7 linked regions of the Homo sapiens genome follow. The protein of the gene in region 7 purifies or fractionates together with the protein of the main gene of each other region. This does not show direct contact. Each region holds a gene or a part of one and is shown on either strand. Other genes may lie near its edges.

What was found.
Region 1: the proteins of NPC1 (region 7) and TMOD3 purify together in Homo sapiens (affinity purification with mass spectrometry; 2 studies listed by BioGRID, with this or other methods). This does not show direct contact.
Region 2: the proteins of NPC1 (region 7) and GRAMD1A purify together in Homo sapiens (affinity purification with mass spectrometry, with the first as the bait; one large-scale study listed by BioGRID). This does not show direct contact.
Region 3: the proteins of NPC1 (region 7) and STK11IP purify together in Homo sapiens (affinity purification with mass spectrometry, with the first as the bait; one large-scale study listed by BioGRID). This does not show direct contact.
Region 4: the proteins of NPC1 (region 7) and NCSTN purify together in Homo sapiens (affinity purification with mass spectrometry, with the first as the bait; one large-scale study listed by BioGRID). This does not show direct contact.
Region 5: the proteins of NPC1 (region 7) and TM7SF3 purify together in Homo sapiens (affinity purification with mass spectrometry, with the first as the bait; one large-scale study listed by BioGRID). This does not show direct contact.
Region 6: the proteins of NPC1 (region 7) and BACE2 purify together in Homo sapiens (affinity purification with mass spectrometry, with the first as the bait; one large-scale study listed by BioGRID). This does not show direct contact.

The regions. Positions count from the first base shown.
Region 1 is NC_000015.10:51,895,653-51,899,152, forward strand, and holds part of TMOD3 (tropomodulin-3), read left to right. Parts: intron 1-766; coding exon 767-874; intron 875-3,500. UniProt on the Homo sapiens protein: Blocks the elongation and depolymerization of the actin filaments at the pointed end. The Tmod/TM complex contributes to the formation of the short actin protofilament, which in turn defines the geometry of the membrane skeleton.
Region 2 is NC_000019.10:34,998,836-35,003,122, forward strand, and holds the start of GRAMD1A (protein Aster-A), read left to right. Parts: upstream 1-1,487; 5' UTR 1,488-1,643; coding exon 1,644-1,651; intron 1,652-2,298; exon of another isoform or gene 2,299-2,409; intron 2,410-4,287. UniProt on the Homo sapiens protein: Cholesterol transporter that mediates non-vesicular transport of cholesterol from the plasma membrane (PM) to the endoplasmic reticulum (ER).
Region 3 is NC_000002.12:219,604,357-219,607,856, reverse strand, and holds part of STK11IP (serine/threonine-protein kinase 11-interacting protein), read right to left. Parts: intron 2,250-3,500; coding exon 2,123-2,249; intron 1,902-2,122; coding exon 1,798-1,901; intron 1,663-1,797; coding exon 1,567-1,662; intron 1,382-1,566; coding exon 1,340-1,381; intron 1,146-1,339; coding exon 999-1,145; intron 879-998; exon of another isoform or gene 874-878; coding exon of another isoform or gene 805-873; coding exon 720-804; intron 1-719. UniProt on the Homo sapiens protein: May regulate STK11/LKB1 function by controlling its subcellular localization.
Region 4 is NC_000001.11:160,356,416-160,359,449, forward strand, and holds the end of NCSTN (nicastrin isoform 1 precursor), read left to right. Parts: intron 1-184; coding exon 185-339; intron 340-625; coding exon 626-838; intron 839-1,733; coding exon 1,734-1,856; 3' UTR 1,857-2,534; downstream 2,535-3,034. UniProt on the Homo sapiens protein: Essential subunit of the gamma-secretase complex, an endoprotease complex that catalyzes the intramembrane cleavage of integral membrane proteins such as Notch receptors and APP (amyloid-beta precursor protein).
Region 5 is NC_000012.12:26,971,079-26,973,731, reverse strand, and holds the end of TM7SF3 (transmembrane 7 superfamily member 3 precursor), read left to right. Parts: 3' UTR 1-2,153; downstream 2,154-2,653. UniProt on the Homo sapiens protein: Involved in the inhibition of cytokine-induced death of pancreatic beta cells. Involved in the promotion of insulin secretion from pancreatic beta cells.
Region 6 is NC_000021.9:41,171,160-41,174,659, reverse strand, and holds part of BACE2 (beta-secretase 2 isoform A preproprotein), read right to left. Parts: intron 1-3,500. UniProt on the Homo sapiens protein: Responsible for the proteolytic processing of the amyloid precursor protein (APP).
Region 7 is NC_000018.10:23,559,007-23,562,506, reverse strand, and holds part of NPC1 (NPC intracellular cholesterol transporter 1 precursor), read left to right. Parts: intron 1-979; coding exon 980-1,147; intron 1,148-2,026; coding exon 2,027-2,276; intron 2,277-3,500. UniProt on the Homo sapiens protein: Intracellular cholesterol transporter which acts in concert with NPC2 and plays an important role in the egress of cholesterol from the endosomal/lysosomal compartment.

The sequences.
Region 1 (3,500 bases), on a different chromosome or scaffold from region 7:
TCTCTCCTTCAAGTAGTGTAGGGTTAATCTCTCTTAGTGCTTTGTAGCTTAAACTAAGTGACTGAGAACAGTCTGTCTGCCTCAGGAATCGTACTCATCAGAGATGGACTCCTTCATTTCTTTCCTTGTAGAAAAGTAAATCCACTTTTATTTTCATATAAAAAGAATAATGAAGGCTGGGTGCAGTGACTCATGCCTGTAATCCCAGCACTTTGGGAGGCCGAGGAGGGTGGATCACCTGAGGTCAGGAGTTCGGGACCAGCCTGACCAACATGATGAAACCCCATCTCTCCTAAAAATACAAAATTAGCTGGACCTGGTGGTGCATGCCTGTAATCTCAGCTACTTGGGAGGCTGAGGCAGGAGGGTTGCTTAAACCTGGGAGATAGAGGTTGCAGTGAGCTGAGATTGCGCCGTTGCACTCCAACCTGGGCAACAAGAGCAAAACTCTGTCTCAAAATACATAAATAAATAAAAGGAATAATGAAAGGTGAGAATAATGAGAATTTTTTTTAACCTAAATGCTAGAGAAATGGTGATATGTGCTCTGCTCTGAGTCAGTAGTTTATGCAAATGCTCCATCGTAGATAAGTCAGATAATTATGGAGGAAGCTGCATTATTTGTATTCATTTGTAGACTAATTCTTAGGTGTTTGTATAATTTCTGAATACATTTTAAAGCAAAAAAAACCATATATTTGATTAATGGAAACTAAATATAATGAAAATTGAAATGTAATGATGTTTTATGTTATTGTCTTTCAAGAATATCCCAATTCCAACCCTAAAAGATTTTGCAAAGGCTTTGGAAACCAACACACATGTGAAATGTTTCAGTCTTGCAGCCACCCGGAGCAATGACCCTGTTGCTACTGTAAGTAAGCGACTTGAGAATATCAAAATTATGACATGCCCAGGGTGTGTTACAGTGGTGATTTTTATGAACAAGATTTACCCCTTTTTTATAGTTAATGTTTTAGCTCACTATTAGGCAGTATATTACTTACCAGCTTTTTGTGTTTATTTTTTCCTGTATTTCCTTCCTATGAATTTTTTCCCCCTCCCAGCTTCCCCCTCCTTCCTATGAATTTTTTAAAACATAAATGGAATCATGTAGTATATGCTGTTCTGCAACTTGATTTTTCACTCTGCAGTTTATCTTTAAAGTTTTGTTGTATCAATACATAGGGATCTACCACATTATTTTAACATCTTCAGAGGATTCCATTTATGGATCCTTAGTGGTGGATTTTTGTTAAATGCTTTTGCTGTGTCTCTTGAGATGTTCATATGGTTTTTGTCCTTTATTCTGTCAATGTGGTGTATTGATTGACTTTTATATGTTGAACCAGCCTTTCATTCCTGAGATAAATCCCACTTGATCATGGTATAAACCTTTTGTTTCATTGGCTTTGAGAATATCACTCACTCCCTTGGGGGCTCCCCTTACCTCAGTGGACATTCCTTCTCAAAGCCCTGTACTGGTTTCTCCATATCTCTTCAACTTCTAAATATTGGAATGGCCCAGAACGTGGTCCTTCTTTTCTCAGTCTACACTGACTTTCTGGGTAATCTCAGAAATATATATATTATCTTCATATACTTGCTGATGACTCCCAGTGTTATTATCTACAGTTTGTATCTCTCTCCTGAACTCCGTATTCATGTCCAGCTACCTCCTCAGCAGCTTTACTTGGATGTCTAATGGACATCTTACATGTAAGTCCTCAAACTCCTGACTTCCATCCTGTGCCTGCTTTTCTCTGCTGTTTTCTATCTTACTAAATGCAATTTCAATCTTTCATTGCTCAGGCAAACAAAAAAAAAAAATTTTTTTTTTTTTTTTTTTTGAGACAGCGTCTCACTCTGTTGCCCCGGCTAGAGTGCAGTGGCGCAATCTCGGCTCACTGCAACCTCCGCCTCCCGGGTTCAAGCGATTCTCCTGCCTCAGCCTCCTGAGTAGCTGGGATTACAGGCATGCGCCACCACGCCTGGCTAATTTTTGTATTTATAGTAGAGATGTGGTTTCACCATATTGGCCAGGCTGGTCTCGAGCTCCTGACCTTGTGATCCGCCCACCTCAACCTCCCAAAGTGCTAGGATTACAGGCGTGAGCCACCACGCCCAGCAAAAAAAAAAAAAAAAACAAAAAACTAATGGAATCATTCTCGACATCCCTTTCTTGCAACTTAAACCTACCTTTGGCCCTATCTTCAAAATATTTCAGAATCCAACCACTTCTCACCATTTTCACAACTACCACCTTGACCCAAGCCACCATCTTTTCCCACCTGGATTATTGCAACAGCCTCCTAATTGGGTTACCTTCATCTATTTTACCTACCCCAAAGTCAGTTCTTTACATAGCACCAAGAGTGATTCTTTTAAAACTTAAGTTAAATGACCTCATTCCTATTCGGATAACCCTCTAGCAGCTTCCCATCTCATTAAGAGTAAAAATAAAAATCTTTCAGTGGCCTTATAAGGCTTCACATGAGTGGACTTCATCTCATTTACTTGCCCTTTCTTTCATTCTACTCTAGCCATACAGCCTTCTTCAGCATGCCATGTGGACTCCCAAATCAGGGCCTGTACATTTGTTCCTTCTGCCTTGAACTTTCTTCCTAAAATAATCCACTTAGCTTTGTCTTATCACTTTGACTCTTTGCTCAAATGTCACCTTCTAGTTGAGGCTTTTCCTGACCGTGCTATATAAAATACCAACCCCATTCCCACCCCCAGTATTCCCCATCTACCCTATTGTGCCTTTTTTCTTTTTACCCTCTAACATTGCACTTTGCTTACTTTTATTATCTGTGTCCCTCCCCAGCTAGAATGAACATTCTGCCAGGCAGGGACCAATGTGTTTTATCTCTGAATCTCTAGGACAGTGCTAATCAAATAATAGACCATCAGTAATATTCGAATACATGTATGGATAAGGGATTTGTTCCAGGTCACATAGCTAGTTGTTGCTAATAGAAAGGACAAGTATGTAGATACCAGCCACAGTTTTTTTAGTATCTCTACGCCCTATTGCCTTTCCTTTAACTTTAAGCTTGGTCTTACCCATATTTTCTGTAGTTTAACCTTGCTTTTGATCCCTCTAAGGGGCTGTTTTATATAAACTCATGATCATTGTTCTTTTTTCTCTCTCTTTCCTTCCCCTCCTTCCTTCCCTTCTTCTCTCTTCCTACCTCTGTCTCTTTTTCTTTCCTTCCCAGTCTCCCTCCTCTTTCTTTTTTCACTTGTAGGCTTCTGTTAATTAATCAATATGGTACTTATTAAGCACTGAGTCAAATGTCTAACACTGTACTGTATCCTATGAGAAATGAAATAGAAGCAGATTGAAGACATACCATTACTTGAGGAATTTAATATTTTATTAGCCCCTTCTTCTCAATGGCCTTTGTGCTCTTCTGGTTCTGGTTATCTGTGTTCTTTTCTGGCCTTCTGCCTTGACCATTTCTTTTGGCCCCTGCCTTGGAAATTAGTACATA
Region 2 (4,287 bases), on a different chromosome or scaffold from region 7:
AACCAGTGCAAAGGTCTTGGGGTAGGAGGCAGGAAGGTGCCTGGTGAGTTAGAAGAACAGCGGGTAGGCTGGATGGGGGGTGTGAGCCAGGGGGAGATGAGGAGCTGAAGTCAGAGAGCTGACAGGGGCCTTGGGTGCCAAGGTGAGGACTTTGCTTTTACCTGGAGTGAGGTACAGCTGGGGCAGGGCTCTGAGCCAGGAGGGTAGTTAACTGACTCAGGTGGTCCCAGGCTCTCTCTGGCTGCAGGTGAGAACAGACAGTAGGGGCAGGGATGGGAGCAGGGAGATCAGGCAGGAGAGGATGGAGGCTGGGCCAGGGCGTGGGCAGCGGAGGAAGAAGAGTTTAGAATGGAGCGATTGATTTTATACGTGGAGCCCACAGTTTGTGACGGATTGGATGTGGTGTGAAGGAAAAGAGAGGGTCAGAAAAGACTCTGAAGTTCTGGGCCTGCCATTCATCAAAATGGAGAAGTCAGGTGGGCTTCTTTTGCAGGAGGAGGGGAAGGGTTGATGGAGAGGGTTGGGAAGGGAGTTTTTTCAAAAGAGGCGGGGACAGCGTACCCTGGAGAGCGCTGGGGAGCCACAGCCCCGGAGCTGTGAGGTGGGACTCGCATTTCTGTGTGGTTGGGCCAGGAGTCCAGGACACCACCTGACTCTGACCTCTTGCAGACGGGGCGGGGGAGGGGGGACGCAGGTTATGGCGTCAGAGCAGGATCGAATCCAACTCTGCCGCCTACCTACCAGGTGACCCCAACAAGTCACTTCCCATCTTAGAGGCCGGGCTTCTCCTTCCGTAAAAGGACTGATTTTGCCCGTTCCTGCGCTGTCCCCGGGAAAAGCCCTTACCACCGAGTTAGTGGGACTCCCAGCACTGGGGTGATGAGCGCAAGGTCTCAGCACAGATAAGAGCCAGGGAGGCTGGATTCTGACTTGGTACTTGGCCTGGCTGACCAAAACTGGGAAGTCCCTAGAAACGGAGGCACCGGACCTCCTGGGACCAGGAACCCGGGCTCAGAGACTGGGAGAGGGAAGGAGGAGGCGGCCAACCGGCCCCACCCCTTCCCGCCAGCTTCAGGCCCCCTCCCCCATACATACACCTCGGTTTCCCAGCATCTCCAGTCCTCCCCCACCTTCGCCCCGGCTCTCAGGTTCCTCCCTGGGAGGTCCAGGAGCTTCTGGCCAGGGGCATAGTAGTTGCTAGGGACCCTTTTCTAGGTACTAGGGGAGGGGGCTCCCCAACCTGCGGGCAGGCAGCTGCCTCCACGATGTTTGGTTTTAATAAAGTCTCTTTGTTTCCTTCTCTGTCTCTCTGCCCCTCTGCTTTCCCTTCTCTGTCCAGTCCCTCTCTCCCCGGCTTCTCCCTCCTTCTAGGCCTCTGCGGCCCCTCCCCGCCTTCCCTCCCGGGCTGGGGGCGGCGCCGTGACGCGGCGGGGCGGGGGAAGGAAGGGGGTGTCGCTGACGCCGCGGCGGCCTCCGGCGGCTCCGGCCTTTTGTGCGGGCGGTTGGGTCGGGTGGGGGCGGCGGCCGCGGAAGGCCAGGCCGGTGCCCTGCGGGGACGCCCAGCGCAGCCCAGCCCCGCGCAGCCCAGCCCTGCCCTGCCCTGCCCTGCCCTGCGCCCGGGGCGCGCCCACCGCGCCGCATCCATGTTCGAGTAAGGACCGGGCGACTAGAGCTCAGGGACCGGGCGCGCGGGGGAGGCCACCGGAGGGAGGGGGCGCCGCGGGCTTGGGGAGGGGGCGGAGCGGCCGCTGCAGAGGTCGGGGGCCTCTGCACATGGCTCTGGCCGGGGCGATCGGGGTGGGGGCGGGGCAGGGGGCCCCCGGGCGAGGGGTGCAGCTGGGGAGTGGGGCGCGGACGCAGGGCAGGGCCCGGGGTCTGGGTCGCCACTGCCGGCCCGCGACGCACTGGGTTGCGGGGTTTGGCTGGGGGCCCGCGGGTTCATCTGGCGGGGAGGGCCCTCAGGCCTGGCAACCCCCTGCCTGGTAAGCCAGGGGTGAGCGCGAGGCCGAACTGGGGCTCCGGCCTGGGATGGAGACAGGATCGGGACCAGCCCAGGCCCACAGGCCGCGGAGCCCTGGGCGCGCCGGGAGTAGGCAGCCCCCTCCTGCCTGGGCCCCCTCCCACCGTCCTTGGCTGTTGCGGGTCTCGGGGCTGCCGGGGGTGGGGGCTTCCTGCGTCTCTCCAGGACCGCGTGCTTGAGGTCATGGAGGGCGGGGGGTCCTGTGTGCTCGGAATTGACTTCTTACTCCCCTTCCGGTCCAGGTGGGCGCATGTGCTTCCGACTGTGAATTGTCTTGCAAGTGTGTGTACGTGTGTCTGGGGCTGCTAGCCTGCAGCAGCTTTGGGCCTCTGATAGAGTTCCTGCGTGTAACTTAACCACTAATTCTGACCGCGGCTCTGTGTGTCACTGTAAGTTACCTGTGTGTGTCTGGGGCTCCAAATCTGTGGCTGTGAGCAGCTGGTTGTGTGCGTGTTGTGTCTCATTCCATCTGTAGCTCCCTGTGCAAATATAAATTACCCCTGTGTGTCTGAGTGTGACGTTGGAGTGTTTGTACATGTGTCTGGAGTTACCGTGTGTAGCAGCTCTGATCCTTCTTGGGCTGTGTGTGTTTTACCATTAATTCTATCTGTAGCTCCAAGCGTTGCTGTAAGTTACCAGTGTGCGTCCCATTGTGACTTAGTGGTGTGTGTACAAGTGTGCCTGGGGCTCTGGGTTCTACCATGACCCTCTGTGCCTGCATATGCCTGTAATTTAGCTCTGAAACGCTCTTCTTTTTTTTTTTTTCTTTTGAAATAGAGTCTGGCTCTGTCGCCCAGGCTAGAGTGCAGTGGCACGATCTCGGCCCACTGCAACCTCCTCCTGCTGGGTTCAAGCAATTCTCCTGCCTCAGCCTCCTGAGTAGCTGGGATTACAGGCGTGTGCCACCACGCCTGGCTAAGTTTTGTATTTTTAGTAGAGATGGGGTTTCACCATGTTGGCCAGGCTGATCTCGAACTCCTGACCTCAGGTGATCCACCCACCTCGGCCTCCCAAAGTGCTGGGATTACAGGCTTAAGCCATCGCGCCTGGCTTGAAACTCTCATTTAGCTCTGTGTGCCAATGTAAGTTACATTTGTGACATTGTTGTGTGTCTGGGGCTCTGTGAGTGTGGCTGTAACTTAATTTGATTCCATCTTTGTGTGAACATTCCCTTGTGTATTCCTTTGTGACAGTATTGAGTGGTGCCTAGGCCTCTCTGTGTACAGCTGAGACCCTCTGTGGTTTTGTGTGTGTGTGAACAGTGTGAGACCCCTTGTGGCTCTCTGTAGGCTTGGAACCCTCCCTTCTAAGACCCTGGGAGTACCCAGGGCACTTTGGAGGCAATAATGATAACTGACGTTGTCCACCTGTTACAGTTAGTATAGCATGTGCCACGCATTATTCCACTACCTGGCCACTGTGTCCTCGAGATCCACGCCCTGCTCGGCTGCATTATTCCCAAGTCCTGCTTGACTGTGAGCATCAGGGCTCTCCACCAGCTACAGCCACTGACACCTCCACCCCTTGCCACTTTACTTTTTCTTTTCCTTTTTCTCTTTCTTTTAGACGCAGTCTCGCTCTGTCGCCCAGGCTGGACTGCAGTGGCACGATCTCGGCTCACTGCAACCTCTGCCTCCTGGGTTCAAGCGATTCTTCTGCCTCAGCCTCCCTAGTAGCTGGGATTACAGGTGCGTGCCACCACACCTGGCTAATTTTTGTATTTTTAGTAGAGATGGGGTTTCACCATGTTGGCCAGGCTGGTCTCAAACTCCTAACCTCAGGTGATCCACCCGCCTCGGCCTCCCAAAGTGCTGGGATTACAGGCATCAGCCACTGCGCCCAGCCCCTTGCCACTTTAGAAGTAGCCTTTTCTCTGTCTTCCCTGCCAGATGGTGAGCCCAGTGCGGGCACGGGAACAACTCAGTGGGGATGTGTTGGCTGACCGTGGGACCTGATTTACCTGGGACTATGTATGTGTCACCTGGGGTCTTTTGGGACTGGTCTTTCACTGTATGGCTGTCTTTGGCTCTTTGCTGAGACTTCCTCGTGGCTATGTGTGTGAATATAATTTATCCGGGACTTTCTGTGGGTTGCTGTATGTTTCTGTGACCCTCTGCAGCTCTGTGTCTGTGTGCACACATGCATGTGTCTGGATAACTTTTCTGGGAAATTGCCATGTGACTGTAGCAGACTAGCAATGCTGCAGGTGTGTGTGTGTGTGTGTGTGTGTGTGTGTGTAATTACTCTGTGGCTCTCTGTAGCATACC
Region 3 (3,500 bases), on a different chromosome or scaffold from region 7:
CCAAGCTGCGCATCCTATGCTACTTCCAGAGACTCAGCATACATGATAGCATCCTGAAGGGCCCGAGACGGCCGGCAGCTGACACACCTATTTCTCTTCAACCTCACATTTCTCAAACTTCTCTGGCCACAATCCTATTATTTTATATATATACATATACACTTTCTTTTGTTTTGGGGTTTTTTACTTTTTTTTTTAAGAGATAAGGTCTTACTCTGTCACCAGGTTAGAGTGCAGTGGCATGATCATAGCTCACTGCAACCTTGAACTATCAGGCTCTGGCGATCCTCCTGCCTCAGCCTCCCAAGTAGCTAGGACTACAGGCGCACACCACCACGTCAGGCTAATTTAAAAATTTTTTTGTAGAAATGGACATCTCTCTATGTTGCCCAGGCTGGTCTCAAACTCCTGGGCTCAGGCAATCCTCCCACCTCAGCCTCCCAAAGTGCTGGGATTACAGATGTAAGCCACTGCACCTGGCCTACATGATCTCTTGACACCCCACAAAATTAATGTTCCTCGAAAAGTTTTCAAAATGCTCCCAGAAGCAGTCTTCTCCTTTCCCTAAACTAAAAGAAAAGAAAAAAGACTAAGAAGCCCTCTATAATACTCTACCCCAACAAAAAATAACATTTCTTCCAGCAGATCTTCACTGTAACTTAAAAATTAGAGTGAGCTCGCTGGGGACGAGAGAGGTTAGTGGGATGAAGCTGACTTACCAGCCGGAGAGGGGTTCAGAGTTCGGGGCTCCGGGTCCGTATCACTGGGTTCAGAGATGCTTGCCCGCCTCACACGGACTCGGCTCTGAGGTTGGTGGAGGGAAGAAGTTCTGTGAAAGCCAAGCCTCCAGCCCTGCCATCCACGGCTGGCCATCCAACCTATCAAAGAAACCTTGACCACGTGCAAGCACAGTTCCTACCATTCCCTGCCCACTGTAGCCCAGAGTCCCCGGAGAGACACCCAACCGCAGGCACAAGGCAGCGGAGGACGCTGCTTACCTTAACCTTATGAAGCAGGGGCTGGGTCACAACACCCCCTGAGGAGAGGCTGTCACTCAGGTCAGGGCCACCTGAGGTTTCAGGAGTACTCCCCACTGGCCAGGGCAAAGGTGGGCCCATGGGGCTGAGCCCCAAGGATGTGTGAGTCTGGCACGTGACGACAGGAAGGAGAGAGAGGTTGGAGCCTGGGAGCACCTCTGCCTTGCCCAAGCCAGCCAAAAGGCGGGACCCTACTTTCCACTGACCAGGAAGACCCTGTCACCAGCCAGCCCTCTGTTCTCTCCCCAGCGCCCTCCCTTCGTGTCTTCCCCCAACAGTCCTCGCCCCCCAACCACACCGACCTGAAAATCTGTCAGTGACAAGACCTTGCCATCGAGAAGGAACTGAGCAAAGACAAAAAGGGGGAGGGAGTATGTGGTAGGCCCATCCTGCTGAGCTCCAGGTATTAAGAACACAGTAAGCAGGGTCCAGGTCCTTGGCCCCTCACCCAGGGATGGCAAGAGGGTGCAAGGTGGGGGAGGACTGGGCAGGAAAGGGGAAGAAGAGTGGACACAGGACGATCACTCACGCCAGTAGCAGCATCCCTGGCCCGGGGTGACAAGTACTGGGCAGTGGCTGCTCGGTGCTCAGGGTGGAACCAAAGAGGGTTCCCCTCCAGGTAGAGCTGAGGGGCAGGAAGGGGAGAATGAGGAGGGCCTGGGGCCCTGGCCCTCCCTGTGTGAAGAAGGCACTGACCAAACCAGCATGGGGGGGTACGTGCAAGGGTGGTTCCCAGGCCCCTGATGCATTCCCATCTCACCTTGCGGAGCTCAGCCAGCAGCCACAGTGGTGACAGCTCCCGGTGTCCTTCCAGCAGGTTGTATGCCAAATCCAGGTGCCGCAGATTCCTCAGCTGCTCTAGGCCTGGGGTGGACGCAAGAAGGAAGGAAGAGCATGTGGATGAGTACACGCAAGTGAGTGTGGTGCATGCACTGGGGGAGGTTGCAGCAGAAAGACCGGCCAGAGCACCCCTGCACTCCCCATAAGCCCTCTCAAGGCTCTAGAGGCACATGGTCCCCAGGCCAGCCCCAGCCTCACTCTCCCCCTTCCCCTCCATGCTTGCCCCATCACACACCCCCACTCACCATGCAGGCTCCGAAGCTCATTGCCTCGCAGTATCAGGACCCCCAGAGCAGCCCCTGAGGGTCCCATTCTTGGCACCAAATGCAGGCGATTATAGGAGATGTCCAGATGGTGGAGCTCACACAAATCCTGGCAGGGGTACAGGGGAGAAAAAGATTATCTCGTTGACCAAACTCTAGCCAGGGTCCTCTGAGACCTCTTCTGGACTAGGCCTCAACCTTGGCCTATATAAAACTGCACACACTCAGCACAAATGATTTCATCCACCCCTACTCCCACGTTAAAAGACTTGAACAACACCAGCACTGTTCCTAACAGTTCAAGGCCACACCCTGAGCATGGCAACTCCAAGCCCCTTAAATTCCTGCCTGGGAAAAGTCAAAGCTGCCAAAAGAATTTCCCATTTGTTTCAGCCAACTCCTGAAGATAGGGCCCCGTCTCCCAGTCTCTGTGAAAGGGTAAGGGCCTTATTTTGGTAAGTGCCAGTTAGTTAGCAAACTCAGATGGGTTTCATGTGGACCAACCTGATTTCCACTCCCCCAGCTCTGCTCAAGGCCCTACCATTCCCCTGCCCACTCCCCGCCGCCCTCTTTTAAAATGCCCAGCCGGCCAGGTGCAGTGGCTCATGCCTGTAATCCCAGCACTCTGGGAGGCCAAAGAGGGGGGATCACTTGAGGCCAGGAGTTCGAGACTCACCTGGCCAACATTGTGAAACCCCGTCTCTACTAAAAATACAAAAATTAGCTGGGCGTGGTGGCACACACTTGTAATCCCAGCTACTTGGGAGGCTGAGGCAGGAGAATCGCTTGAACCCGGGAGGCAGAGGTTACGGTGAGCCAAGATCGTGCCATTGCACTCCAGCCTGGGCAACAAGAGCGAAACTCTGTCTCATTAAAAAAAAAAAAAGGAAAAAAGTCCACTGACACTTCTGTATCTTCCAGGCTCTGTTCAGGGAAATAACCGTGACTGCAACACTGTCTATGCTATCACCACAAACATTCAAACTACAAACGAAGAAATCCATCGGTTGCCACTGCTATCCTCATTCCACCATCTAAAGAAACATAGAGCTCAACACCTAGAAATCTCAACTGGCTGCCCTCTGGACTCAGAAAATGGATTTATAGTCTGCTCCAACCATTCATCTTTGTTTCCCTTTTTGTTTCCATAGAAATGTCCCCCATTAAATGCCTGGTCACTCTCACCATCCAGCAAAATTCATCCACTACCAAGTCCCAATAAATGGCTCAGTTGGTTTTTAGTGAACAAAAGGTGATCAAGGAAGAAAAGGATTTATATTGTTCAGGGGAAAGAGGAGTGTCTCTTCTTTCCCTGAATTAGAGGAGGTTCTCACCTTGATCAAACCCTACTCAGGCTCCT
Region 4 (3,034 bases), on a different chromosome or scaffold from region 7:
ACCTTTATTATTTTTTTTCTTTTTCCTCTCTGTTTTTCTTACCCCCTGTTTTCCTTTCTTTCTTCTCATATTTGATGGATCCTTTTCCATTGCCCTTCTTTCTGGCTGCTGCCAATCTTGGGCTTTTCCTATTTCACCCACCATCCACCCACCAAATCTTCCCTTCCCTTTGGTCTGCACTCAGGTGACGGGCCTCTTCAACATTACATCGCTGTCTCCAGCCCCACCAACACCACTTATGTTGTACAGTATGCCTTGGCAAATTTGACTGGCACAGTGGTCAACCTCACCCGAGAGCAGTGCCAGGATCCAAGTAAAGTCCCAAGTGAAAACAAGGATGTGAGTGGTGGTGGGTGTTGGAAGTGCCCTGGGGCCCCTTTCCCTTGGGAAAGTTGGAGGTTCTTCTAGACCTAGTTAGACCCAGGGGATTGGGATGGAGAGGTGGAGAGATGCAGTCCTCAGCAATTGGGTGTTGAAAAGCCTGGGTGAAAATGGACCATCTGAAGGGTAAAGGGACAGCAGCCAGTTAGCTCAATTGGTTAGAGCATGGCACTGATAGAGGGTAGAGGGAACGAGTGAGAAGAGGATCACCCTAGCCGTGTGTTGTGGCGCATCTTCTGTGCAGCTGTATGAGTACTCATGGGTCCAGGGCCCTTTGCATTCTAATGAGACGGACCGACTCCCCCGGTGTGTGCGTTCTACTGCACGATTAGCCAGGGCCTTGTCTCCTGCCTTTGAACTGAGTCAGTGGAGCTCTACTGAATACTCTACATGGACTGAGAGCCGCTGGAAAGATATCCGTGCCCGGATATTTCTCATCGCCAGCAAAGAGCTTGAGGTGAGATGGGGCAGGGGCATAGGTGGCAGGGATCTGTTTGACTTCTTTCTCTGCTTTCTTGTGTCATATAGCCCTTTCCATCTCCCATTTGCCCCACATTTGTAGCAAAAGCCTACTGCAAATCTGTCCCTGGTCAGCCAGCATGTTCCCTTAGGAGGCCTTTTTTTTGAGATGGAGTTTCATTCTTGTTGCTCAAGCTGGAGTGCAATGGCACAATCTCAGCTTACTGCAACCTCCGTCCCTTGGGTTTAAGCAGTTCTCCTGCCTCAGCCTTTCGAGTAGCTGGGATTACAGGCATGTGTCACCACACCCAGCTAATTTTTTTTTATTTTTAGTAGAGATGGGTTTCACCATGTTGGTCAGGCTAGTCTTAAACTCCTGACCTCAGGTGATCCACCTTTCTTGGCCTCCCAAAGTGCTGGGATTATAGGCGTGAGCCACTGCACCCGGCCAGGAGGCCTTTCTTCACAGATAGTTTGAGTAGGTGTTCATTCTGGAGAGCCCCTGTGGATCCCAGAACTCTTTCACAGCTTCAACTCCCGGCTGGCATTCCCCATCTGGCACAGCTGGGATGAGTCAGTCTAATGTACCGAGCTCCTGTCACAAGTCAGTAATGTAAGTGCCGCAAGGGAACCAAAGCCATGGGCCCTCCTTTCAAAATGCCTAAAATCTAAGTAATACAAGATGGAAGCAAGAACAGAGATGCTTTACTTCTCTTTTCAAATGGGGAGACAAAGTCTGTAGGCTGGAGAGATGTTGCCCATGATTATTCCATAGTTGGTGCTTAGAGCCAGCATCCGAATTCCCATGGCTCCAAACCCCAAACAGTTATCCAAAAAACTGCACTGAGTTCTGAGAATGCCTTTGTCCTTTCCTGCCCTCCCTCCCCCTGCAGTTGATCACCCTGACAGTGGGCTTCGGCATCCTCATCTTCTCCCTCATCGTCACCTACTGCATCAATGCCAAAGCTGATGTCCTTTTCATTGCTCCCCGGGAGCCAGGAGCTGTGTCATACTGAGGAGGACCCCAGCTTTTCTTGCCAGCTCAGCAGTTCACTTCCTAGAGCATCTGTCCCACTGGGACACAACCACTAATTTGTCACTGGAACCTCCCTGGGCCTGTCTCAGATTGGGATTAACATAAAAGAGTGGAACTATCCAAAAGAGACAGGGAGAAATAAATAAATTGCCTCCCTTCCTCCGCTCCCCTTTCCCATCACCCCTTCCCCATTTCCTCTTCCTTCTCTACTCATGCCAGATTTTGGGATTACAAATAGAAGCTTCTTGCTCCTGTTTAACTCCCTAGTTACCCACCCTAATTTGCCCTTCAGGACCCTTCTACTTTTTCCTTCCTGCCCTGTACCTCTCTCTGCTCCTCACCCCCACCCCTGTACCCAGCCACCTTCCTGACTGGGAAGGACATAAAAGGTTTAATGTCAGGGTCAAACTACATTGAGCCCCTGAGGACAGGGGCATCTCTGGGCTGAGCCTACTGTCTCCTTCCCACTGTCCTTTCTCCAGGCCCTCAGATGGCACATTAGGGTGGGCGTGCTGCGGGTGGGTATCCCACCTCCAGCCCACAGTGCTCAGTTGTACTTTTTATTAAGCTGTAATATCTATTTTTGTTTTTGTCTTTTTCCTTTATTCTTTTTGTAAATATATATATAATGAGTTTCATTAAAATAGATTATCCCACACGACTTGTACTGCTAGTTATTCTTCCCAGGCCACCTTGTTCAGCGAGCCTAGACTGGAAGTCATGAAGTTATCTTTTATGCTATCATCTTGGGCTCCAGAGGACCCAAGGAGTAAGGCTCTGTCAAAAACAGTTGAAGTCCTTTCAAATTGCAGAGCCCTGGTTCTCCTCTTGTAAGAACAATGTTAACATAGTTTCTTCTCACTTTGTAATGAACGGGCATTTTTTTTTTTTTTTTTTTTTTTTTTTTTTTTTGAGATGGAGTCTTGCTCTGTCACCCAGGCTGGAGTGCAGTGGCGCGATCTCGGCTCACTGCAAGCTCCACCTCCCGGGTTCACGCCATTCTCTTGCCTCAGCTTCCCAAGTAGCTGGGACTACAGGCACCCACCACCACGCCCAGCTAATTTTTTTTGTATTTTTAGTAGAGACGGAGTTTCACCATGTTAGCCAGGATGGTCGTGACCTCCTGACCTTGTGATCCACCCACCTCGACCTCCCAAA
Region 5 (2,653 bases), on a different chromosome or scaffold from region 7:
ATACTTGAGAAATTACCTTTTGGTTTACAAATCTATGATCAACTTATTCCATTAAATAGATACATTAAAAAAATTAAAAACTGATTCTTCTGCAGAGCACTGGTGTTTCTTTTTATAACCCCTTGAAACAAGTCTCTCACCTGAGCCTGTCTAAACTTTCGGAGGGAGTTTATTATTGAGTCTTTATCTGTGACAGTATTTGGAGATTTAGGGATTTGATACTTAGGCCTTTGAATTTTAGAATACAAAAAGAGAAGCAAGCCAGACATGGTGGCTCACACCTGTAATCCCAATACTGGGAAGCCAAGGTGGGAGTATCGCTTGAGCCCAGGAGTTTGAGACCGACATGGGCAACATGACAAGACCCCATCTCTACAAAAAAATTAAAAAATTAGCCAGGCATGGTGGCACATGCCTACTCCCAGCTCCCAAGGAGACTGAGATGGGAGGATCCCTGGAGCCCTGAAGATTGAGGCTACAGTGAGCCTTGATTGTGTCACTGCACTCCAGCTTGGGTGACAGAGACCCTGTCTCGAGAAATTAAAAAAAAAAAAAACTTATTTTCTTACTAAAAGCAGTCTGATTACTTAGTTGCATGCCCTTCTTAGTATCATACATTATCCAAAAGTTACCCTTTGTTTTTTTTTCAGTATTTTTTAAAATTTTTAAGTTGTGATAAAATACACATGAAATTTACCTTCTTATTCATGTTTAAGTGTACAATTCAGTAGGTTCCCTTTGTTTTTGCCTTTTATTGCTTAAAATGGTAATTGAAATAGCTAAATTATTATTTGAAAATAGGCCAATTTATATAGATAATAGAATTTTATAAGGGTGATTTATATTCCAAATAATGGCCCCCTTTTTTTTTTCAAGGCCTTTTCAAATAGTGTCAACAGGTGATCTTTAATTTAACTGCATTAGATGACATATGGATTACTTTTGTTTTTAGGAAATAACCCCCACCTTAATCTATATTGCCGACCAGGTGCGGTGGCTCAAACCTGTAATCCCAGCATTTTGGGAGGTCGAGGCGGGTGGATCACCTGGGGTCAGGAGTTCGAGACCAGCCTGGCCAACATAGTGGTCTCTACTATAGTATAGTAGAATATATACTACTACACCCTGTCTCTACTAAAAATACAAAAATTAGCTGGGTATTGTGGCAGGTGCCTGTAATCCCAGCTACTCGGGAGGCTGAGGCAGGAGAATCGCTTGAACCCAGGAGGCAGAGGTTGCAGTGAGCCAAGATCACGCCACTGCACTCCACCCTGGGCAACAGAGCGAGACTCCGTCTCAAAAAAAAAAAAAGTCTGTATTGCCATTAATAAGAAAACCTTAGAAAAATTTGTACTTCATAGTTCTTTCTGCTCAATTAGCTGTTAGCATTAGTGTAAAATATAGTTTTTAATAATTTCTGTACAAAGCCTTTGTACAGAAAGGCTTCATCCTTAAAGTGATGAGAATGGAGTCAAAAAGGATTCAGGTGTTTAGAGGAGCTGCTTTTCATTAGGACCTTGGAGAGTCCCCTCAGTTTTGACACCCTTGTTTCACCACAAGAAAGCACCCGACACCCTGGGTTGCATACTTACTACTCAGGGGCTTTCCCCCCAGCTTTCAGAGCACTGAATTATTGTGAGCTGGTGACTCTGCAGGCCTGAGTGGTATTAGGGTTGTGGAATGTTGTTGCATACACGTTTATGAGTTAACCACTATTTAAATGATGCTGCTTTTTAAAGTTTTTTCAAAGTACAATAGATTTTTGAAGTTTCAGGTAACTGGAAAAATATTTAACTTTTGCTTTAAGTGTTTGGGGCAGGATAAAACAACATAGAAAATATAAAACAATTTTTGCTTTGAAAAATACAGTGCAGGTGACCATTTACTGCTTATTCTGTAATCCTTACTGTCTATAATTAACTTCAGTAACACTGAAACTTGATGAAAAGTTTTAAAAAATTATTTACTGTAGGGACAAAGTTATATGGAATGTTTGTTATTTTCTATACTATCTGAATGCACTGCCAGTGAAGACTGTAAAGACAGAACACACTATTTTGGAGGGAGGATACTAATTGTTTAAAATTTTTCATCATTTGTGAGTGATAAAAAGTTTGTATAGTTTTTATAATAAATCCCTATTTTGAAAAAAATGCTAAAAAGCCTCATTAAATATTTTCATAAAATTTTTCAGATTATATTTGTACCACAGCAACAAGACATGACGAGTTTCATAGCTATAAAAGTTATTTAATATGGGCAAACAATATAGTTCTTCATTTTTAAAAAATCACAAAGATAATAACAGGAAATGAAATCTGGGGCAATGTGTTAAAAGACTAATTTGGTGTTATTAGCACTTCAGGTGTGTCAGACTAAAGAAAAGTAGTAGTTAACAGGAAACTCTGTTGAACTGTTCTTTAAAATGTTTTCAGAAAGTTCTGATTAATCTGTTATAGGTTAGCTACCAGGTTGCCAAACCATACTAGGTATATTGTACCACAGGCCAGTTGAGTTTTCTGTAGCAGGTGAAATAGAAAACTGATTCCAACAAAGAAATTGCTAGAATATTAAACCTTCAAAGGACTTCAGAGGTCATGTTCACTGACCTCTTTAATACCTGAGGAAATTCTTAAGTTAATGATATGAAGTC
Region 6 (3,500 bases), on a different chromosome or scaffold from region 7:
CAGTGCCCACTAACCCCCCACCTCTTCTCCAGCACAGGTAGACCCTGAATTCAGGGGCCAATGCTTGACCTGCTCTAGTCTATGAATGAGATGTTACATAAATCCCAAGGCATGCTGTCAGATACTAGGGAGAAGGAGAGAAACACCACCTTTAAATTCCTCCCTCTCCACCCCTGGGAGCAATGCAGCTACGTACCACCACCACAAAAGAATAGCCACTTGGCCGCGCGGTGGCTCACGCCTGTAATCCTAGCACTTTGGGAGGCCGAGGTGGGCAGATCACTAGGTCAAGAGATCAAGACCATCCTGGACAACATGGTGAAACCCCGTCTCTACTAAAAGCACAAAAATTAGCTGGTTGTCGTGGCACACACCTGTAGTCGCAGCTACTCAGGAGGCTGAGGCAGAAGAATCGCTTGAACCTGGGAGGTGGAGGTTGCAGTGAGCCAAGATCAGGCCACTGTACTCCAGCCTGGCAACAGAGCGAGACTGTTTAAAAAAAAAAAAAAAAAAAAAAAAAGGCCACTGATCACAACAGCTATCCTTATCATTTTGGGATCATTCCAGGAGGAAAAAGGAAAAATGGGCAGGCAAGGGGAGGTGAAGCCAACTTACCTACAACAAGGAGATCACACAAGGAGATCAGGGATGAGTATGGCGGGAAGTATGGGGGGAAGCACCTGTTTCATATTAAATATATCCTGATTGATAAGGGGGTTGCCTTATAATGTCTTTAAAACATGAAATACTGAAGCTTTCTACATCCATCCCAACATAAGTGTTTATTACTCATAGGTATTTAAATATCATTGATCTAATCTTGTACACATTGGATTTCTCTCATATTATACATTAATTTCAGCAATTCTAGAATTAGTGCAACATGACATGGGACATTTTAAATTCTTTTTTTCGAGACAGAGTCTCGTTCTGTTGCCCAGGCTGGAGTGCAGTGACACGATCTCGGCTCACTGCAACCTTTGCCTCCCAGGTTCAAGCAATTCTCCTGCCTCAGCCTCCTGAGTAGCTGGGACTACAGACATAAGCCACCATGCCTGGCTAATTTTCATATTTTTAGTAGAGATGGGGTTTCACCATGTTGACCAGGCTGGGTCAGGTCAAACTCCTGACCTCAGGTGACCCGCCCGCCTCAGCCTCCCAAAGTGCTGGGATTACAGGCATGAGCCACCGCGCCCCGCCTGACATTTTAAATTTTCAAGCAGTTACTCTCCAGCAGGAAAAACAATACAGAAGTACAGAAGGGAAGCAGAAACACTCCTCTCTTCCTTCTCCCACCCTAAGCCCCAGGGCACTCTCTTGCCGCAGGCTTCATATCAATACAGCACTAAAATCGTCATTTGTGTATTGCCTGTGATAACAATTACACTTGAATCCCAAATTGAAATTATTAACAATTAAAAGGTGAGGTAGAATCAAAGAAAAAAAATCCATAGAATGAAAAACTTAGAATGAACTTGTTGTGGATTAAATCATGTTCCCCAAAAGATATGCTGAAGACGTAACTCCGGTACCTGTGAACTTAACCTTATTCAGAAAGTGGGTCTATGCAGATGTGATGAAGTAAAGATGAGGTCAGGTTAGAGGAGGGCAGGCCCTAATCTAATGACTGGTCTCCTTATAAGAAGAGAGGAATTTGGCCACAGAAACTTACATGGAGGGGAGAGATTGGAGTCATGCGGCCAAGGGTCAAGAAATGCCAGCAGCCATCAGACACTAAGAAGAGGGAAGGAAGGATCCTCCCCCAGAGCCTCCGGAGGGACAGTGTTTCTGCTGTCGCCTTGCTTTTTGAACTCTGGCCTGCAGAATTATGAGAACAAGTTTCTATTGTTTTGAGACCAGGACATTAATGCAGAAATTTGATTCTCCACAGCTGAGGAAAGGGAAGATGAGGGAGGTTACACACTTGCTCCTGGTCACAGGTGTGACACTACAGTGCTCAGGACCTGTAATCACATCAGGATGCTTCCTGTCAAACCACATCATCTCCAGAAGCATGAAGATGGTTCTTCTTAAAAAGTTACTGTAACTAAAACACTGCACCTAAGGAGGAACGGCAGTGACGTGCAAAGACTGAGCTGGGCTGACCCAGATTGACAGCTCCACCCTGCTTTGCCTTCACTAGTGTGGCCCTGGACAAACTACTCTGCCTCTCCAAGCCTCGGTTACCCTGTCTGAAAATTAAGTCACATTGTTGTGCACATTTTCCAGGACGTTGCAAGGATACAATGAGGTGAGCCACGCACAGGGCTTCACGTGCCCTTTGAGTGTCCAACACTCCATCAGCAAGAAATCAAGGTCAGCTCTTGATCTTATAAACTATTTCTCAGACTCCTGTCCCTCCTTGTTGTTTCAAGCTGATTTCTTGGCTCACCTTTCCCAGTCCTCTGTAATACAGTCTTTGATGAATTCTTTCTCTAAAGCCCAGAAGCTGCCACTTCTCACTCGAAGGAGCTGGTGGCAAACTGGCTTTGACTTTCTTGTTCTTTCAACCTCAGTAATTGTTTTTTCTCATTGTCTTTAATAGTTTACCATTTCAAGTGGCTCCATCAGATTTCTTCTTGCTGGGATTGCCTTCTTGTTTTCAGCCTCACCTACAGTCAGCTTCATTTGGGGAGCCTGGATGGCTTCTTCTGAAGAACACAAACTCTTATTGCATATGCTGGATCCATATTTTCAATACAAGTCTTCCAAATAATTGTGTACTAAGAGGCTGATAATCAAGTGAATGCACCATGATTAAAATAGGATTCGCCAAAATAATTAGGTGGCCCTTTACATTCAAGTGTTCAGGTATGAGAATAGTTTTGCTGTCTGCTTTACCTATGTTAGTGGAGATGACAGAAAATCTTTCAGAAAAAGAATCCCAAAGGCTTTTTTTGAAGCTACTACAAGGTATATGGCTGCACACCTTCTCCTGTCTTCAGCTGGAGTTATTGTGTTAACATGAAAGTCTCTTTTTTCATAATAGAAATTGCTGTAATTATAATTACTTTAGAAGAGTGTTATTATTAATAAGACCAAATTGCACGGTTCAAGCAGGTGCTGGTTGAAAGAACTGTTCAAAAGTTCTACAGTTCGAAAGAACCCACATAATGGGATCAGCCGCAAACCTGGCAGTCATCTCCATGCCAACGTGGCCCTGCCTGCCAGCACACACGCCTTGCAGCTCTCAGGCGGGCTTCCGGGCACATGCCTGTGACTCCTCACAGAGTCACTGGGCTTTAAACAATGGACCTCTAGTTCCTGATTAAAGCCTTCGGGGAACAAGCACACTTCCAACAGTTGACTTTCCCATAAAAGAAGGGGAGCTGGAGGGCTCTGGTTCCTGTTGAACCTCTCCTCTCAAGGCCTCTCCCGTGCACACCTGGATCCAGCCCTTCATTCTGTTGCTCATTCAGCAGTGCTGAAGGAAAGAGGAGATGGGGGAACAGCACGGAGTTCCGGAGGGTCCAGTTGCAGTCATACAATAAGTCCCTAAC
Region 7 (3,500 bases):
ATCTCCTTGAAGATTAGGGAAAGAAGATCCTGGGAAGTTTCTAGCAAGCAGAGACTGGTAAATGAGAATCGACAGTACAGGACCCATTCCAGCTATTTTCTTAGGTGTAATACACTGATACTATCCTTATATAATGTGTTGTGTGTATGTGTAAGAAAATAAAATCCAAAAAGATAACAGTATTAGGGGTTTTTTTTGTTTTTTTTTTTTGTTTTTTTGTGATGGAGTCTTGCTCTGTCACCCACGCTGGAGTGCAGTGGCGCAATCTTGGCTCACTTCAAGCTCTGCCTCCCGGGTTCATGCCATTCTCCCGCCTCAGCCTCCCGAGTAGCTGGGACTACAGGCGTCCGCCACCACGCCCGGCTAATTTTTTGTATTTTCAGTAGAGATGGGGTTTCACTGTGTTAGCCAGGTTGGTCTCCATCTCCTGACCTGGTGGTCCGCCCACCTCGGCCTCCCAGAGTGCTGGAATTACAGGTGTGAGCCACCGTGCCCGGCCAACAGTATTAGGTTTATTGACACGTGACCTCTGCTCTAAAACCAGTTTTCCAAGTAAGTTCCATAATTCTCTGGCTGTGTAGCTTCCTGCGGCAGAGGTTTTCTGGAACCAGCTTTGTTAACTGAAGAAGTACTGAGGCTCTTAGCTGCGTCTTCCTGGGCCTTGGTATACTCTTCTATATAGTGGGGATTTGACTTCTCCAAGCTGTTGTGAGAGCTATGAGATAACGTGTGCCTTTCCCTTTCCTGTCTGTTTTTTACTTTTAAGTTACTTGGAATCGGGCCTCCATATTATTTGCAGGGTGATAAGCCAATTTAAAGGGAATCTCTGTTCGTGCCCTTAGTTAGTGTTTGCTGTCCAGCATTCCAGCATGGTGCATATGGAGTTCGTGTTTCCCTTCAAGAGGCCTTTTGTAAGATCTTGCCTCGTGAATTACAGCAAGCATCTTGTCTCCTTTTTCCTTTGGGTTTCCTCTTCTAGCAATGTACAATGCCTGCCGGGATGTGGAGGCCCCCTCAAGTAATGACAAGGCCCTGGGACTCCTGTGTGGGAAGGACGCTGACGCCTGTAATGCCACCAACTGGATTGAATACATGTTCAATAAGGACAATGGACAGGCACCTTTTACCATCACTCCTGTGTTTTCAGGTAGGTATAAAGATTCCAAGTTTGGTGTGTTTATGATATTGTTTTAAAGCCAAGGAACTGGCTGGGCACAGTGGCTCACCAGTGCTTGGGGAGACTGAGGCAAGAGAATTGCTTAAGACCAGGAGTTCCAGACCAGCCTGGGCAATGTAGTGAGGCCCCATCTCTATGAAAGAATTAAACATTAGCCAGGTGTGGTGGCATGCATCTGTAGTCCCAGCTACTTGGGAGGCTGAGGCAGGAGGATTGCGTGGGTCCAGGAGTTCAAGGCTGCAGTGAGTTACGATCATCCCATTGTACTCCAACCTTGGTGAGGGCAAAGCCCTGTCTCTCCATGAATGAATGAATGAATCTTAGTTGAGGAAGCATAATCTACAATAGGAAGATAAACACATTCAGGTAACTAGTTCATAGTTTCTCCCAGTAAGAGAGGTAACTGGTACATTTATCCTGCTGTGGCTAATTTAGGGGGTGCTGGGAGTGGGAATGGAGGAGGAAATGAATTGCCTTCAGGCATTGCTGTCATAATTGAAAGAATAAGCAGTTAAAAAGGGGGTGGGAGGCAGCTTTTCTAGAGCTCTGCTATAGTATTAGCTCCTGAGAATGGAGATGGGACATGATTGAAGGGTTGCCTTGGTATGTGGTGTACTTGGAGGATTCCTCTATCAGTGACAAACCCCTACGCGCAAGTTTATTGAGGTAACTTAAAATTCCATAGGACGAAGCAGCAAAACATAATTTAATTAAACTAAAACCTCCAATTCTTTTTCTTCTTTCAGTTGTTTTATGTATTTCAGTGGGCTTTTCTTTGAGTTTAAGTATAATACAAAATTTTGGATGTTTTTAATTGAGATTTGTACTCAACACAATTCCTTTCTGTAGATTTTCCAGTCCATGGGATGGAGCCCATGAACAATGCCACCAAAGGCTGTGACGAGTCTGTGGATGAGGTCACAGCACCATGTAGCTGCCAAGACTGCTCTATTGTCTGTGGCCCCAAGCCCCAGCCCCCACCTCCTCCTGCTCCCTGGACGATCCTTGGCTTGGACGCCATGTATGTCATCATGTGGATCACCTACATGGCGTTTTTGCTTGTGTTTTTTGGAGCATTTTTTGCAGTGTGGTGCTACAGGTAAGCAGTTTTGTTTGTCATCCAGGGCAAAAAGAGCAAAATTGCCCACTGGCACTTTGAGCTTTCATTTGTCAGAGCTTGGTTACTTAGGACAAGAAACAAATACCTCCATGAATACCATTGCATGGATTATTGTGTCCTACAGCTATTCTATAGTAAACCATCAAAGTTCTGTTTAACACTGCAACATCTGAAATGAATTTTACTGATTTATTCAAAATGATGTGTGATTTAAAGCACTGTGCATTAGCCACTGATTCTTTTTTTTTTTGGAGACTGAGTCTCACTCTTGTCGCCCAGGCTGAAGTGCAGTGGTGTGATCTCAGCTCACTGCAACCTCCACCTCCCAGGTTTAAGCAATTCCCCTGCATCAGCCTCCTGAGTAGCTGGGATTACAGGCATCCGCCACCATGCCTGCATGCCTGACTAATTTTTGTATTTTTAGTAGAGACGGGGTTTCACCGTGTTGGCCAGGCTGATCTCCAACTCCTGACCTCAGGTGATCTGCCCGCCTTGGCCTCCCAGAGTGCTGGGATTACAGGAGTAAGCCACCGTGCCCAGCCGGCCACTCATTCTTTAGAAAGTCAGAGTCAAGGCCAGGCTCAGTGGCTCACACCTGTAATCCCAGCACTTTAGGAGGCCAAGGCAGGAGAATCATGAGGTCAGGAGTCCATTGCAAACAGCCCTGGCGACAGTGCGAGACTGTGTCTCACCAAAAAAAAAAAAAAAAAAAAAAAAGTCAGAGTCAAATGAGCGAAATCAGATTCAAATCTAATTAAATGGAGTACTATAGTCCTTTTAGATATTTGCATCTTAATTTAGGACAGTACTTTTTTTACTTTTTATTTTGAAATAATTGTAGACTTAACCAAAAAGTTGCAAAATGGTAGAATTTATGTGTATCCTTAACCCAGTTTCCCCGATGATACAACTTACATAACTCATAGTACATCTAGAACTAGAAATACCATTTGACCCAGCCATCCCATTACTGGGTATATACCCAAAGGATTATAAATCATGCTGCTATAAAGACACATGCACACGTATGTTTATAGCGGCACTATTCACAATAGCAAAGACTTGGAACCAACCTAAATGTCCAACAACGATAGACTGGATTAAGAAAATGTGGCACATACACACCATGGAATACTCTGCAGCCATAAAAAATGATGAGTTCATGTCCTTTGTAGGGACTTGGATGAAACTGGAAACCATCAT